Regions from separate parts of the Homo sapiens genome. Here region 2 is linked to region 1. The links come from fine-mapping of genetic effects on gene expression. Tissue or cell type: sigmoid colon. Region 1 holds a variant in brackets; the other region holds the start of a gene. All regions are shown on one strand. Distances are from middle to middle.

Region 1 (8,518 bases):
AATGAACGGTGTAAAACAGAATCCTACAATTATTTAACCAATCAATTTTGTGCCTTATATGGATGTTATTCTGTCAACTAGAATATTACCCACTAGCCCTCCCGACCCACCCCTGGGAGAGACCTGGTTTGTAACATCAGATCTCTGGGTCATTCTCTCCAGCCTGTAGCATTCTCCTCTCTCCTCCTCTCCAGCATAGACCATGGCTTTTCCACACTTCACTTACAAAGCAACCTTGTTCCTCATGGGATTCGCCTTTCCTTTTTTCTCATTTATTACCTTTGTATTAATGGTTTTGTTTTTTTTTTCCTTCACACTCAAACTACACCCACAACTTTCCCAATTTAAGAAACTTTATCAGGGCCGGCCTCATGGGCATGTGATCTGTGCAATTGCACAGGGCTTCATGCTTTGAAAGGCCCTGTGCTTTGTTTAATGCTCTGCTGTTACTGTCTTGAAATTCTCTATAACTTTTGCCCAAGGACCCTACATTTTCATTTTGCACTGGCCCCACAAAGTATGTAGCCTGTACTGTACACATTTAATCTGCCACCCAACTCATAAATGCCCTAGATTACATTTCCTTGCTGCCAACTCTTTTTTGTCTTCATTAAAGTAGGGCAAACATCTGGTTGTACCAGGCTTCCAACAAATTAGTGGCTCCCAAAGTTTGGCCCACAAAGCTCTTCACACAGTTGGCTGGCTCAAAATGATGACTGCTGCATGGGTGTACTCATATTCTTCTTTCATGAACAATTATGTTTATATTAAAACCAGAGATCATCTCCTACTGTTCCAAAACCAATGCCCTTTCTCTTAGCCATTGTGATAGCTTTTGTGTGTGAAATGTTTGGTCTGATGGCTGTAAATGCCTAAGAGCCACTGATGCAAACCCCCCAACCACACATTTTATCTGGCATCAAGGGTCAGGAGGAGCTCAAGTTCCAGGGTAAGCCTGGAACTTTGAATAAAGCTTTAGAATAAAGCTCTCTGACCTTACATGTTTTAGGAATGAAGAGTTCCAGTATTTTCATATTGGGAAAACAATGCATATTTGTGTAACAATAGAAATTCTATTCTTTCTACTCTACATAGAAAGAGACATCATTTGCAGGAGTAGGTAGCTCTCCTGAAAGAGGAAATGGAATGAAAATCAAGTGAGTTTAGGAAGAGCATTCTTAAACTGAGACGAGTTAAGAATCAGAAATTCTTAAACTGAGAAGAGGAATCCAAGGGCAGCCAGCAATGTGTCACGGGAGTCAAAACCTCTGAGAGGCCGGGCACAGTGGCTCACGCCTGTAATCCCAGCACTTTGGGAGGCCGAGGAGGGCAGATCACGAGGTCAGGAGATTGAGACTATCCTGGCTAACATGGTGAAACCCCGTCTCCACTAAAAATACAAAAAATAATTAGCCAGGCGTGGTGGCGGGAGGCTGAGGCGGGAGAATGGTGTGAACCTGGGAGGTGGAGCTTGCAGTGAGCCAAGATTGCACCACTGCACTCCAGCCTGGGAGACAGAGTAAGACTCCATCTCAAAAAAAAAAAACAAAAAAAAAAAAAAAAAAAAAAAAACACCTCTGAGAAAAGTCTAGAGAGTCACTATCACTCATTGCAATTAATCTGGAACATTACTTTTAATATGGTAATAAATATTTTACAGCATAATGTAAAATTCCCACAAATTTTTGTAAATATAAGACTTCAGAGCTATTTCGGCTGAGATGCCATTGCTTGAGCTCCTGCCCAGGTGTTCCTCTTTCATCCTTCTCTGCTGCTAAAAACACTTCAGTCAACAAATTTGCAATGCTCTGTTCTGCTACACCCAAAACCACAGCCAAATAAGACAAGGTCTCACAGACTGACAGTCCTGTGCTTTGTATTTAGAGAAAATCAACTATCCGGTAGAGATAGAGGTTTCCAGAACCTATAAAAATGTCAAGCATCAAAGGCTGAAGTTTAGTCTCTCTCACTTTGGTAAAGCCCTAAGTGGAAGTCTGAAGTCAGCAGAGTAGGGTGGGATTCAGTGTTGGTCACGTTCCTTACACATGCTGTCACTAATCCTCTAAGTGAACCTGGCCACATGAGCAATGGACAGGCTCATCACTCAAGTCCACATTTCCATGGATACTGTCTGAAAACACAGTAAGATAAATTCCTCTGGCTGGCTTCTCATTGCTAAGCACCTGGTAATCCTGACCATCCACCTTTCAGTCCTTACCAAAGAAGCAGAATGACATGGAAGCAAAATCACATAATCCAGAGCCCAGAGGCCTGAGATCAAGTCATGGCTCCACCATTGGCTCAATGTATCTGGGTTTCTGCACATGTAGAACAGAAACAATACCTGACCACCTATGGGGTTGTTGCAAGGACCAAACTAGACAAAAGCACTACGTAAACCCCGAAGATGCTACCAATGATTCTATCATTCTTTCTGCTTTGCTCACTGATTCAGCATCCCCCAACATTCCAGTCCTCTGGTGGATGAAGCAAAAATACATCTTTGAGTTTCCACTTTTTCTTACCACCCTCGTGCCATGTCACAGAAATTCATTCAACATTTCATGAGCAAATGCTTCACCTTTCAAACACTGATAAAATTTACCTCCGAATAGCAGACTCTTTGCCTTCATGTTCTAGACACTCGGTTTAAATGTCACTGTAACTTGGTATTTAACCCTCTAAAAAGTATCTAAATACCTCAACATGAACTTTTTCGTTAAAAGATTTAAATCTATAAATCCAGCTGAGCTATGGTGAATGAGGGAAGCAGTGCTTCTTTATTGTCCACACATTTGTCAAAGTTTCTGTGGGAAAGAGCTCATCCTGGACCTCAGGTCTTGACCAGAGATGACCAATCCTTGGGTGGAAAGATGCAAACATGGGCTCTTTACTTCAACACGTAAGTGCTTGGAATAAGATTTCTATACAGAGATGACATCCCAGCCACCCCGGTGATGGGGTTCAGGATGTGCTATCCTACAATATGGCACATTGGCATTTGAGAAAATGACAGAGGCAGGAAGGTCACTCTCACCTTCCTCCCACTTTTCTCCCCCAAACAGGTCATACAACCCAGGAAAGATTTCCTGACCCTCCTCTAAACCAGGTCATAAGACTTTCATGTGAAAGGATAAAGAAAATGTGGTTCATTAACACAGTGAAATACTACTCAGTCTTTAAAAAGAAGGAAATCCTGTCATCTGTGACAACATGGATGAGCCAGGAGGACCTTATGTTAAGTGAAATAAGCCAGGCACAGAAAGAGAAATATAGCCGACAAAGACCTATCCAACTAGAAAGGAGACCAGTATTATAGGCCAGAAACAGCACTGAGCTGAAAGCCAAAGAACTTTAGTTCTAGTACTGAATCTTTTCTAGTTAGCAAGTTTCGCCCCTTAGTCTCAGTTACCTCAGCTTGAAATTATGAAGTTGAATTCTATGATTTCTAAATTCCTTTCGAGTTCTAAGATCCTATTATAAGCAGCATTATTTTTCCACTCCAAAACAAAACTAGGTAAGAGACTATCCATTGGCAGAGGGTAATTCCTGATAAGTTTCATATATTCTGTTGAGAGATATCTCCCTTTCCTGTTAATGGAGGGAAAAAACTCAAACAATGAAGTGGTTCAGGAAATGTTTACCAGAACAAGATGGACTAGATTCTTCAGTGGGCAGCCGTGAAATGAAACA[G/A]AAACATTTTAAGTGCTTTATTACTCTAGCAGAAGGAAGAAAACTATTCTGTCCTTTTAAAGCCTTGACCCAGGAGAAATTATCAGCAATTAAAAGTTATTGTTTTCCAAAAGGGAAAGAAAAAAGCCATCTCCTACCAAAAAATAAATTCTAAGAAGGTTATGTTTCCAGTTACTAGGAAAAGAAGCCTCATTCTTACTCCTTCTTTCTCATCTTTTAAGTGTAAGTATTTCCAAATCTCCTTAAAGTCAAGCAACATTTCTCCCTACAAACTCATTAAGTTGGTTGTTATTTTTGGAATTAGTTAATGAATATTTTCCTATGATTATACAAAACCAGAATCTCACCCTCTTGGATTCTTCTTAATATTCATAGCCCTCTCTTTTCAGGAAGTGAATGGCCATTATCACTAAAAGAAGTAAAAGGAATATAAAAACTGAAATCTGTGTTTAGATGCTATGTCTCATGCATACTGGTAATGCTCAGTGCAACTTATCAAAGGCTCAGAAGGGAATTCTTTCAGAATGCTGCCACCAAATGGGTTGTAAAGGGTTTCCTTATTTGGGGTTCCTGGGGAAGCAGTTTTGTGGATTGTTGTGAAAGGAAAAAAAGGTGTAAGCCTCAACATCTTCAACCTCCTTAAGCTCTCTGTTATGAGCGGAATGTTTATGTCCCTCCCAAAGGTCATGTGTTGAAACCCTAACCCATAGTGCAATGATATAAGATGGTGAGGCCTTTGGGAGGTAATTAGGTTTAGATGAGGTCATGAGGATGCAGACGCCAGGTTGGGATTTATCTTATTATAAGAACAGGAAGAGACACCAGAATTTCTCTCTGCCAAGTGGGGACACAGTAAAATGCAGGCAATGCAAGCCAGGGAGAGGGCCCTCACCAGAACCCGAATATGGTGGCACTCTGATCTCAGACTTCCCAGCCTCTGAAACTATGAGAAATAAACGCTTGTTATTTAAGCCACCCAGTCTACGGTATTCTGTTACAGCAGCCCAAGCTGATTAAGACATTTTTCTCTTCTTATCTGTAAAATAATGGATTTGCACAAAATGATTGGAGATTTTCTGGGAGCTTCAACAGTCTGTAATAATAAATAGAACAGTTACCACAGAATTAGAGTAAGAGAATTTCAAGTTAATCACTGGCTCACACAGACGAGAGATGCCAAGTGACATGCTGAGAAGGCATATGTAAGAAATCAGAATAAGTGATTGCTGATGAATCCTAAAAGAAGAAGCCACCATAAGTCAGTACACAGGAAGAGAGGCTTGATGGAACCACTGTTTGAGTCAGAAGATTCAAGTGTGTATGGGAGTTGGAGTGGCTGTAGTAAGGTTCTCAAGGAGGGCATGCTAGGTCTAACATTATATGTGTCCTCTGCAGATAACCTTCATCTGCATCTCACACACTTGAACATCGGTGCAATAAAGAAAGGCTGTAATACCAACAAGGTTTCCAAGGAAACCAACTCTAAGAACTTTGCAAACTTCTTTAAGTGCTGAATGTCTTTTCATACCTACTTGCTGCTCTGTATTTGTTTCTTAGGGCTGGGTGGCTTAACAACAGAAATTTATTTCTCACAGTTCTGAAGGCTAGTAAGTCCAAGATCAAGATTTTCGCCAACAATTTAGTTCCTGGTTAGGGCCTGATTCCTGGCTTGCAGGCACTGGCCTTCTTACTGTGTCCTCACATGGTGGAGAGAGAGAAAAAAAAACTCTAGTGTCTTTTCTCATAAGGGTGCTAATCTCATTGGACTGGGACCGCACCCTCCTGACCTCACTTAACCCTAATTACTTCCTAAAGGCCCCATCTCCTAACATTACATTGAGGGTTAAGGCTTCAAAACATCTGAATTTGGGGTAGGGGGAACATTCAGGCCATAATATTCTTCCTCTGGGCTCCCAAAATTCATGTCCATCTTGAATGCAAAGGTGGTGGGGCTCTCACAAAAAGCCTTGGGGGCAAGACGGCCCCAGAGCCAAGGGCATGATGCTGCTACCTTAATGGGGACAGAAGGCAGAGTACTGAACCAAAGAAGATTATTCTTAAGCCTTAGCATCTAATCGAATTTTCCTTGCTAGGTTTTGGACTTGCTTGGAACATGTCATCTCTTTTTTCTGATTTCTCCCTTTTAGAATGAGAATATCTATATAACCTATGCCTGCATCATCAATGGATTTTGAATGTGCATAATTTGATTTCACAGGTTCACAGATGGAGAGGAATTTTGCTTCAGGATGAATCGTACCTTGAGTATCACCTATACCTAATTTAGATGGTATTTAGATGAGACTTTGGAGTTAAATCTGGAATGAGTTCTTCCCTGTGAGAGCCCAGTCTCCTGGCTCTCTGGAAAGGCCCACCCCATGTGATTCTCTAAGGGAGAATGAAGTCATGGGCAGAGGCATCCTGGCCAGCAAAAACTAGAATGGCCACCCAACCCTTTGAAACAGATGAGGAACCAGCCCTGCCCCCTTGACCTGTGGTAAGAGTGGCAGCTCTGATGCTCTCCAAATTGCCTTTGGGATTATTCTTCCCTTTTCTTGAAAGATAAAGCATGTTCACAGCCAAATGGCCCCATCATCCTATCCTGACAATGTACGAAGCCCAATATCCTGTTTTTTTTTTTTTTTGCTTTTTAATAATTTTTTCTAATTTTGTTACTTTAATTTCCCCATAGCACCTTGGCGATGGCCCAACATCCTTCTTTCAGTCACTCCTGTTTATTTCTGCCCCCTTTAGTCCCAGCTGGCAACATTTCTCTTGGTATAATCCCATCCCCATTCCCGGCTTCTGTTGAAATAGCTGATCAAATCCTTCATTCACATCCATACTATCTCCTTATCAAATAGTGTTCAGCCACACCCTTAGTGTTCTTTTCAGAATAATCTTTCTCATTCTTTGCAATATGGATAGCCTAAGAATTTGCCAAATCTTCAAGTTCTGGTTCCTTTTTGCATAGGAATTCCTTCTTAAATTCATTTCTCTTTTCTCCATTTTACTAGAAGCAGTCAGGAAGAACCAAGGTACTCCTTCAATACTTTGCTTAGACATTTCCTCAGCTAAATATCAACTTCACTGCCTGCACTGGAACACAAACACAATGCAATCTAGTGCTCTGTCACTTTATAATAAAGTAGCAGTTTCCTCCAGTTTCTAATAACCTGTTTCTCATTTCCTTCTGAGACCTCACCAGAACCGCTTTTAATGTCCATATTTCTACCAGCATTGCATTCATGATTACTTAAGTATTCTCTACAAAGATGGTGGTTTTCTCTCCAGCTCTCCCCTTTCTTTCTAAGCCCTCACCAAAATTGCCTTTAACATCCATATTTCTAGCACACACCTCAAAACTCTTCCATGCTCTACCCATTATCCAGTTTCAAAGCCACTTCCACATTTTTAGATATTTGCTTATGGCAGCACACCATCCTTGGTACCAAAGTAAAATACTCCTAACAAAATACCAGTCTAGGTGGCTTAGACAATAGAAATTTATTTCCCACAGTTTGGAGGCTGAGAAGTCCAAGATCAAGGTGCTGGTTGATTTGATTCCTGGGGAGAAAACACATCCTGATTTTTCAGGCAGCCATCACGCCTTATTGCTGTATCCTCTGTTGGGGTTCAGAAAAAAATCCTCAAAATATGGCCCTTTGGCATGCTGAGCGCTTTGAACAAATGTGATTTAAAAGCCTCAGAATCAAAGTCTCTCTCTGATCTTCTCCTGATCCAGCCCGCCACCACCTCTTTCCTTTTTGAAATGCAGGGAGGTTCATGTATCTGACCAAGGGAAGATTTTCCAGAAGGATTGCAATTGTCTTGATCCACCTCTTTAGGAAGCTCATCAAACAACCAGGGAAGATTAATCACTGCAGAAGATATTAAAAGTCAACACCACACCCAGACTGGCTACTACCTATTCTTCTGGAGGCTGCTCCAAAACAACTTTTATTACCTGAGAGGCTTTATCTGAATAATAACACAAACTTTGTTTACAGTTTAGTTCCACCCCTCACCTTCCCAGAGGAACTTTGTCCTAAGCTGTTGTCTGTTCTTTGGGTTCATTTATTTCCCCTAAAAATCATGTATTCTTCCTCTAAAATTACCTACATCCCCCACCTCCCTCTCCCCTATAGAATAGTTAAACTTTAGCCTTCTGGTCCTTTTGAGTTTCCTATTTTGTGTGGCTCCTGTGTGCTTGCACATTAACAAATATGTTTGCCTTTTCTCTTGTTAATCTGTCTATTGTCAGTTTGTTTTACAGAATCAAATTATTAAATCTTCATGGGGTGGAAAGTTCCTTCTGCCCCTACACCTTAAATGTTGAAGAGACAGAGGCAAAATCTCTGTTGTCTCTTTTTATAAGAGCACTAATTCCATTGGACCATGGCCTCATCTCCATGACTTCATCTAACCTATTTACCTCCTAAAGGCCCCACTTCCAAATATCATCACATTGAGAATTAGAGTTTTAACATATAAATTTTAAGAGAGATACAAACTTTTATTCCATAATATGCGTCTCTACACTCACAAACTTAAAGCTAAATAAGCCATTTATATATTAATGCCAATATCTATGAGTTTGATCAAATGATAGCAACCAAATAAGCTATTTCTGATACATATTTCTGTTATAATATTACAGACTAGAACAGAGAAGAACAAGAATCACCTATTGCAAATATCTGTAAGATGTAAGAAGACTGGATCTTGCTTATAATGGGACAGAGAGGATTAACAAATGAATGTCAGCAACTTTTCCTCTCTCATTTGTGTGAAAGGGGACTCTGGTTTCACTCCTTAAGTTTTT
Region 2 (8,518 bases), 42 kb after region 1:
ATAGCTATTGTCCTGACACTTTCTCCCTATGCTGATCAGTACTCACCAATGTTCTTATCAGAACTTTTTTGTCCTACTTTTATGCAAGGAACTGATAAGAAATTTCTTTCTACTAAATTCAACCATCTCCTTTATTTTCTCCATCTCTTTCTGATGAGAAAGTGTCACACCAACATCTTGCAATTATTAGCCTTAACCAAACAACAGCTTTTATCTTTCCCTAGTAGACACTGACCTGTGCTTTTATTAAGCAGAAACAGGATACTGCACTTCAGAAACATCCTCACATCATTTTTTTGCAAAAGCATGCTTCATTGTGAAAGAGATGGTGTCTTTGGGGGTCATCCCATACTCCACAAAAGGATTCCAAACTCCCATTTGCAAAGTGAGGTTTTTAACTGAGGCACCTGAGCAGTGGATGCTCTAATCTACCCACTAGAGAGATGGGTGAATTTTTCACTCGAATTGCATGACTTCAGACAAAATGGTGCACATCCTCCCCTAATTCCTGTCACTTCTGAGTCATTGGCTCTTCCTTGAGAAGAAATGGAGCTATGCCCCAGGACTTTACAGATTGAAATAAATCAGAGGTTTTGAAGTCCATCCTTGGAGTTCTGAACGGCTCTGTGTGGTTTAGAAACTATTTTTCACAGGAAAGTTTTCACTAAGGGGATATGCTAGTCACAACTCCGCAAGATGAAAATGGGAGTTTCCAGAGGTCAGACAGTGCCTCAAGGTGGTAGGAGGAGGGTTGGAGCAATGGCCTGGGAAGATAAAGAAGACCCTCGGGTCACCCTGATTAATGTGACTTTCAGAGCAAACAATTTACCTACAAACATTTCTCCCCTAGTTTGTGGGTAAATGCGAGAATTTTACATCAAACAGGCTTATTACCAATACAGTACAGCTCAGCTGACTACACAATTTTTCATACAAAGAGCCAGCATTTGTCAAGCTCCTGGTATATTCTGGACACTGTACTTCATACATTGACACAAATCAAAGCATTGCAAAATGAAATAGGGTTCAGCCTGCCCTTATAAAGAAAAAAGTTACATACGCAACTAAACCCCTCTGGTTTGTGGGGTTCAGGGCAAAAGTACAAAGCCCCGCACCCATAGTTATTTTCTAGTGTTAATCAAGCTAGCAAATTCTCACGTATTCCTCCTCCCTTGACAAAGGTAGCTTTATAACAGCCTAGAAGGCCAGGGACAATTTAGAATTTTCAGACTTTTCAAAGTTATGGGTCAGACACAGAAATAGCAGACCTGGCCAATGAACAGAGCCCCTTCCCTTCCCCACCCAAGCTCCCTCTCTCCTAGGGGGGCCTCTTGGGCACCCACGGGGACTCCCTCCACTCCTACCCAGCCCACATTTCCAAGCACTTTTACGCCCCAGCAAACAGCTGCCCCTTTGTGAGCTCTCCAGGGATCAGGTCTGCCTTCTTTTCTAGGGCTCAGGCCTTAGAAGCTGGTATGGGTCCCTTTGGGCTGGGTATTCATTCCATCCAGGTCTTGGGAGGGAGGGGGCAGCATGGTCTCTGGGTAGCAAGCCCCTTTGGACCTACAGACTTCCAGCTCTGTGGGGAGGGGCACACCCCCCCCCAACCCCCAGAAGGCCAGACTGGGCCCTTTAAACCCAGGGGATAAGGATAAGGGGGTTCTTCCGCCCAGGTCTGAAGGCCATACTGGCTGAGAGCCTTCTCTATATTACACTAACTAGATCAACTTTTTCTTTCCTTGAAGCTTTCTGGGAGGGTGATTCCTATACAAGGAATAAAGATGAATAAATAGATGGTATAAGAGAAGATTCCTGTTCAAAAGGGGTGAAAGAAAAAAAGTTGAAATCTTTGTGGCTATCTAGAAAAAAATTGACAGCTGATATCATGGTCTGAAAGGTAGAAAAGGTAAAATATTCCTCAAACAGCAAATGTGTTGACAGCGTTCTAGAAAGTCTGAGATGGGATCCTTGCCTCATGGCATAACTTGGGCAAACCTTAAACTGTGTTCTTTCTGTGTTTGAAAGTGGATGTCCTACCCAGACCTTTGCAGAGACACCAAAAGAGCTGGATGAAGACCTGCCAGAGGCACCAGGGCAGCCAAGCTGAATCCTAGGACGTGGACACACTGAGTCAAGCTGGGCAAGGGAGGTTTGGGTCCGCTGCAAACACAAAGGCCTGAGGGACCCCCATGGGAGGCAGGCATAGGAGCTCACGGTCAGAGGAGCAGCAACGGCATGGGCTTCACCCCCACAGCTGACCTAGCATCGGCTTTGCCTTTTCTCAATCAGGGCAAGTTGGTCAGTTCTCCAGGCCTCCATGTTTTAATTCTCTAGAATAGCGATATCACCTGCCCGCATCACCAGGTGGTGATGCCCTTAAGAACTTAGCACGATCTGGCACATGGTAAATTCTCAAGATGCTTCATCTAGAACTGAAAGCGTACGGGTCAGAGCTAGCGCTGAACCCAAGATGTGGGTCACCACAGACCCCAAGCTGGGTGTGCTGCGGGCGGAGGAGTGGACGGGGTTTTGAGGAGAGGGGCACACCGGAACACATAAGGTACAGCGGTCAAGAGGTTAAGTGTTACAGGTCCCTATCCTGTTTTGGGGCAGGGGAAGGTGTTGCTTTTGCAAGTCGCCCAGCCAGAGATGGAAAGAACAGGCACCTAAGGCCCCAAGTTGCTGGCATCCGTGAGCTCCGAGGGGGAGAAGGACGAAGCCGCCCTGCACCCCGCTGGGCTCCAGGGCCGCGCGGGTGCCAGTGGAGAGGCCGGGAGGGCTCGGAAGAAAAACGCCCGGCTCACTGGAGTCGGAGACGCAGCCACTCACCCAGCAGCAGCAGCTTAAGCTCACGGCGCGCGTCCTTCTTGTCCCGACGAAGCTGTCGCTCGATCTCCGCGCTGATGCGCTGCGACTCCTTCTCCTCCGCGGACAGGCAGCAGCAGCCGGCCATGGTGCGCTCAGCTCAGTACCCGACGGGGCGACGCGGCCCCGGGCACCCGAATCCTCGGCCCGGCCGCTCACCCGGCCAGCATGCGACGGGCACAGGGGTGTGGAAAGAAAAGACGGGGGCCGACTTGAGCTTTGGAGTAAGACGCCTGGACCTCCGAGGCTCAATCCCCCTTCGAAAGTCGGCTCTGAGGCGGGGTGAATGCCGAGCGCTGGGAACGCTCGAGTGCACCCCGGATCCGGGCTCAGCCCGCCCCACTCTCGCTCTGGGGAGGAGGAGGGCGAGTCGAGAAGTTGGGAGCGTTGCTGGCCCCGGGAAGATGCGCGCGCCCCTTGGCACAGGAGCCGGACAGCAGTCGGGGGCGCAGACGAGTTGGAACGTCGGTGCTCGGGGGAGAGTAGGATCTCCTGGGCCTAGGGGTGTCCCCAGGCGGGAGGTAGGCGCGGAGTGGGTTGGAGGCAAAGGACCTGGCTGGCCTTTGCCTGGAAAGTTCTGAAAACCTCAGCAGTGACCGCAGACTAAGACTGAGTGGAAAGGTTCCCGCTAGCGTTTGTGGCTCTAAGTGGCAGGAGGAGGCGGAGCATCTTGAACCTGCAGCCCTGGCGTCTGCTGGACTTGCCCTTCTGGGCACCCCAAGCCGAAGGCGCCTGGAAGTGAAAGGGGACGAGCAGGGGGCGCGGAGCTGGGGGTGGGAGCTGGCACCTCTAGGAGCAGCTCCCACACTTGCCTCCCTGGCTGGGGCGTCCCGGCCAAGGTTTGCTGTAATCTGCGCGTCTGGCCGCCAGGCACCGGGTTCCGACAGGTGAGTGAGTTTCGCCAACTCACTCGCTCGGAGAAGGCGGCAGCAGGCTGGAAGAGGAGCGGCGCCAAGCGTCTGTTGCGGGACACAAAGCCCCGGACCTGAAGTGGAAGCTTGCCCACCAGCTTCACCACCACGCACACCCGGATTTCCTAGACTGGCTCCTTCCGCTTCCCGGACGCCCCGGCCCAGCTCGGGCTTGGCCAAAGCCCTTGGTCAGCTCGGCAATTTGCCTGTAAAGTGTGGCTGGGCCTGAGCCTGCTGGCTCTGAGCTCGGAGAAGGAGCCGCCGCTGGGTTCAGTTATAAGAGAACTGCAAGAGCCCAGGGTAAATATCCTCTCGGTCTCCGGACGAGGGGGCTGGGGAGAAAGGGAACGGCTGATTGCTTTGCATTTTATGATGGGAAAGACACCTGCTTTGTAGAAAGGGCTGATACGTTCCTAGTAGCACCTGGCAAGTTTCCTGCCCAGCCCTGAAGCCTAACAGCCGCCTTGCGATTGTGTCCGCACTGACACCTTGGCCTGTATCCTGGACCGTCGGGGTCAAGTTTGAGCAGCATTAATAAAAACTTTAAAAGCACCTCTTAGTACTTAAGTGACACGATAAAATGCATATTACAACATCTGACTTTTGTCTGTGTAGATTTTGATGCAGAAAAGGGAAGGTGGGGAGAGGGGATCCTATTGGCCACAGCAATGAACGTTCTTTCCTTCTCAAGTCAGTATAGGCCATATGCTAATGGGGCGTTAGGCAATTAGCTAGCGCTTCCTCTACTAAGAGCAGGCATAAGTGCCTTTCATTTGAGTAGCATATATTTTATAAATTCAAACTGAGGAGCACATTGAGTGGAATGGTACGTGTCATTATATAAAGAAGTTGGTATCGCGATGCTATCTGGCTGCATGTTCTTATTATTTTACAGTTTAAGAAATGTAGAGGAATCAGACATTAAAAATGTGCATACATGCTTTAATGTGTGACTATTTTAGTTTTCTTGCAGGCATAAATTGACAGTAACAGTGACCCCTACAGGAAAACTCCTGGACATTTCAGATTTGATCTTTGGCCATTTAATAGCCTGTTTCTTCTCTCTTAGCTCTTACGGATTCATTTACAATTTGAGAATAAGATCTCTTGGCTTCTCAAAGTCATGGTTGCATCATAATTGTTATCATTTAAAAATTATAAAAAATTTTTAAATGATTAAAACTAGGGCAAATTTGAACTCTTACGTTAACGGGAATTACTGATACTGACCTATTAGGTTTAAAGTTGGCAAGATTTCAAAAACAGTTATGAAACATATTGATTAGGGCAAATCTGTACAACTTTCCTGGGCTAGTCAGCTTGGCAGTATATATCTGAAGCCTTAAACATGTCCGTCCCCTTCGGCCAAACCAGTAATTTCTCCCTTAAGAAATAACTAGAAAGAAGCCTCATGACTGATGCAAAGGTTTTATTGCCAATACAACAACAAAAACTCACAACCTAAATACCTAACAACAGGGAAGAGATCACTTAAATCATGGTTTATCCATACAATGAGATGTTTTGGAGCCATTAAATATGTGGATATGCGAGTAGTAAACATGTGAATAAATTTGGAGAAAATCCTCAAAATATATTGAATGAAAAAGGCAAGATCCAAAAATATAAAGAGTATGATAAGATTTTAGTATAAGAATACGCATACACATTTTTAAGAGACTGAAGGGACACACATCAAAAAGGTAGCTTGCTGTGAGTCATGGCTGTTTGGTTGATTTTCATTGTTCATTAGAAAATTTGGGCTGGGTGCAGTGGCTCACGTCTGTAATCCCAGCACTTTGGGAGGCCGAGGCGGGCAGATCACCTGAGGTTGGGAGTTCGAGACCAGCCAGCCTGACCAACATGGAGAAACCCCATCTCTACTAAAAATACAAAATTAGTTGGGTGTGGTGGCACATGCCTGTAATCCCAGCTACTCGGGAGGCTGAGGCAGGAGAATTGCTTGAATCCGGAAGGCAGAGGTTGTGGTGAGCCAAGATCACACCATTGCACTCCAGCCTGGGCAACAAGAGCCAAACTCCGTCTCAAAAAAAAAAAAAAAGAAAGAAAAAATTTGGGGCAGCTTGCATAAAATTATTTAGGCTCCACTTTCCTTAACTATAAGATGAGAGGGATAAGCCAGAATAAGCTCAAAAGGATCACCCAACTCTAACATGCATTATTTCTTTGATGACATTCACACTTATCCAAAATAAATTTATTTAAAAATAATCAAAAACCTAAAGTTGTTATTGAGCATCAGCCACTGGTAAGAAACAGAAAACTGGGATATCACAAGTCAATCATTTTTATACTTCTATGTTTTATTCATCTCTGTTTTCCTTATCTGTAGAATCTGGAAGGTAAAATGATAATAATTTTAAGATATTAATTCATTGGAAACATCTTTCCAGGAAGGGGTAGTTTTGAGAAGAGTTCTCAATAAAAGAGAATATTTATTTTCCTAAGTTATTTCAAAAAAGCTGCAATTTTATTTTATTCATCTTGAAGACGAGAGCGCAGACTGGACCTGAGTTTCAGATATCCACCAAGTGTGGGGCTACAGGGGTGAGCTAATTGTCTGATATCCCTCTGAATGTCCACTAGGTCCATACCAGCCCCTGTACCAGGCAGTGAGGATTCAGGTAATAAGACAATTCCAGACTTTCGGTAGAGCTATAGTCTAGTAGAAAGAAGTAAAACTGAGACCCTGAAATCTGAACCTACCCCTTCCTGCTTCCTTCCAGAGAACAGTGAGAGCACAGAGTCACCTGAGGGCGCTCCCCAGGCCTACAGATATGCACAGCAGCCTCATCTTCCATCACTCTCCTGGAACTCTAGACAAATGGAATTTTCTGTTCTCCCTACCTCCTGCCTCCATGCCTCGGTGCATGCTGTTCCATCTTCCAGGAATACCATCTCTTACCCTAGGCAAAATTAGGTAATTTCTTTTTCAATTACATCTCTTCTGAGGAAGCAACTCCAGCCCTTGTCAGTTACATCCATCTTTCCCTACTGCTGGAACACTGTCAACATCTCACTCTATTACACCCGTCTGTTTCTTCTAATCTATGAGTTACTCACAGGTAAAGAGTTTTTCTTACTTATCCTGGTATTCCTAAATTAGCAAGTTTCAGTTGACTAACCTTAAATACTGAAACCAAGAAGAATTAGTCTGAGATGCAAGAAAAGAAGGTTCTTGTGGTGGAAGACAGTGAAAACCAATAAGCAAGTACAAAACAAATGAATGTATAACTTAGGAAGAACTTGTATATATGAGCTGCCCTCACCTGCCACTGGCCCCCTTAGAGAGAATGACTGCCCTGTTTCTAATTCAGAATGCCAAGGAAATGTGCAAATAGAGGGCTGGAAAGATGCAGTTCACTTTCACAAGTGTATTGTCTCTGAACTTAACAAGTAACATAGAGTAAAAATAGGACCTTGAGGAAGTTCACAAAGCACTAATACTAATGTACCTTTGCTGCTCTATGTCAGCATTTTTCAAACTGCAGTTGTGACACATTCCTAGGGTGTGGCCAATATTTTTTCTTAAGAATAAAATATAAAGAGCCAATATCAAGGTTGCTGTATGTATTATTATTTAATAAAATGTTTTTTAACTTTTTTTTTTTTAAGAGCCAGAGTGTCTGTCACTCAAGCTGGAGTGCAATGGCGTGATTATGGCTCACTGCAGCCTTGAACTCCTAGGCTCAAGCAGTTCTCCCACCTCAGCCTCCCAAATAGCTAGGACTACAAGCCCATGCCACCATGTCCAGCTATTTTTTTATTCTTATATTTTGTAAACGCAGGGTCTCACTATATTACCCGGGCTGGTCTTGAACTCCTGGCCTCATAGAGTCCCCCTGCCTCAGCCTCCTGAAGTACTGGGATTACAGGCATAAGCCACCACATCTTTAGTTTTATTTTATTTTTAAGCCAAATACCCAGAGTTCAGTGAGAAAAACTTTAGTTTTAATTGTACGTGTATCAACTCTTAAGCAGCTCAGTCATCAGTGGGAGTCTGCTTGTCCATCTCCTGAATGTGTTAGTGTAAATGATTCCAAATTTTCTAATTCATTTTTCTGAATCCAATATGTTCTTTTTTTTTCAGTTTGAGTTCAATGTGTTCTCTAAAATGTTTTCAATCCTTCTTCCCCGTCACTTCTACTCCCCATCCCACCCATTGGCTCTAGTTTGGTAGGTGAGAGTTGATGGAGCAATGATGGATAATGATTGATTGATTGATTGTTTTTAAAAAAATTTTAGATTCAGTGGGTACATGTGCACGTTAGTTACATGGGTATATTTTGTGATGCTGAGGTTTGGCCTTTAATTGAACCTGTCACCCCATTAGTGAACACAGTAACTAATAGGTAGTTTTTCACCCCTTTCCCCTGCCCCCACTCCCCACTATTGGAGTCCCCAGTATCTATTGTTCCCAACTGATGGATATTTAGATGGATGTGTAATACTGATGCTAGTGGTTGCTTGCACTCAACATCTATTTTTTTTAAGGCAATCAACATGTCAACATGTTGCTCTACAATATTCTCTGTCTGAAGACCAGAAATTGTTTATTATATAACTGTTACCGAAAACGCTGGGATGATAGACAATGAAGTCTGCCTTCAAACACACATGACTGTGAGTAGGCAGGAATTGATATTGTTTGTTTTTGAATGTGACTTTTCATTGAAGTTGGGGAATCTCAAGAAGAAATCAAACTCTTTAAAATGTGAAGT

Evidence for each region. PIP is the estimated chance that this variant, and not a neighbour inherited with it, causes the effect.
Region 2: it holds the start of GNA14, and the variant in region 1 is fine-mapped to the expression of GNA14 in sigmoid colon (GTEx, PIP 0.90).

The regions. Positions count from the first base shown.
Region 1 is chr9:77,602,410-77,610,927 of GRCh38, forward strand. The region is part of intron 1 of GNA14 (G protein subunit alpha 14); the gene reads right to left. Among named protein-coding and RNA genes, the nearest start is that of GNA14, 42 kb to the right of the region's middle. The variant G/A (reference allele first, on the strand shown) is at 3,694.
Region 2 is chr9:77,644,841-77,653,358 of GRCh38, forward strand. It overlaps GNA14 (G protein subunit alpha 14), which reads right to left and starts at 3,482. Exons shown (of 7, transcript NM_004297.4): 1 at 2,830-3,482. The coding sequence starts at 2,953.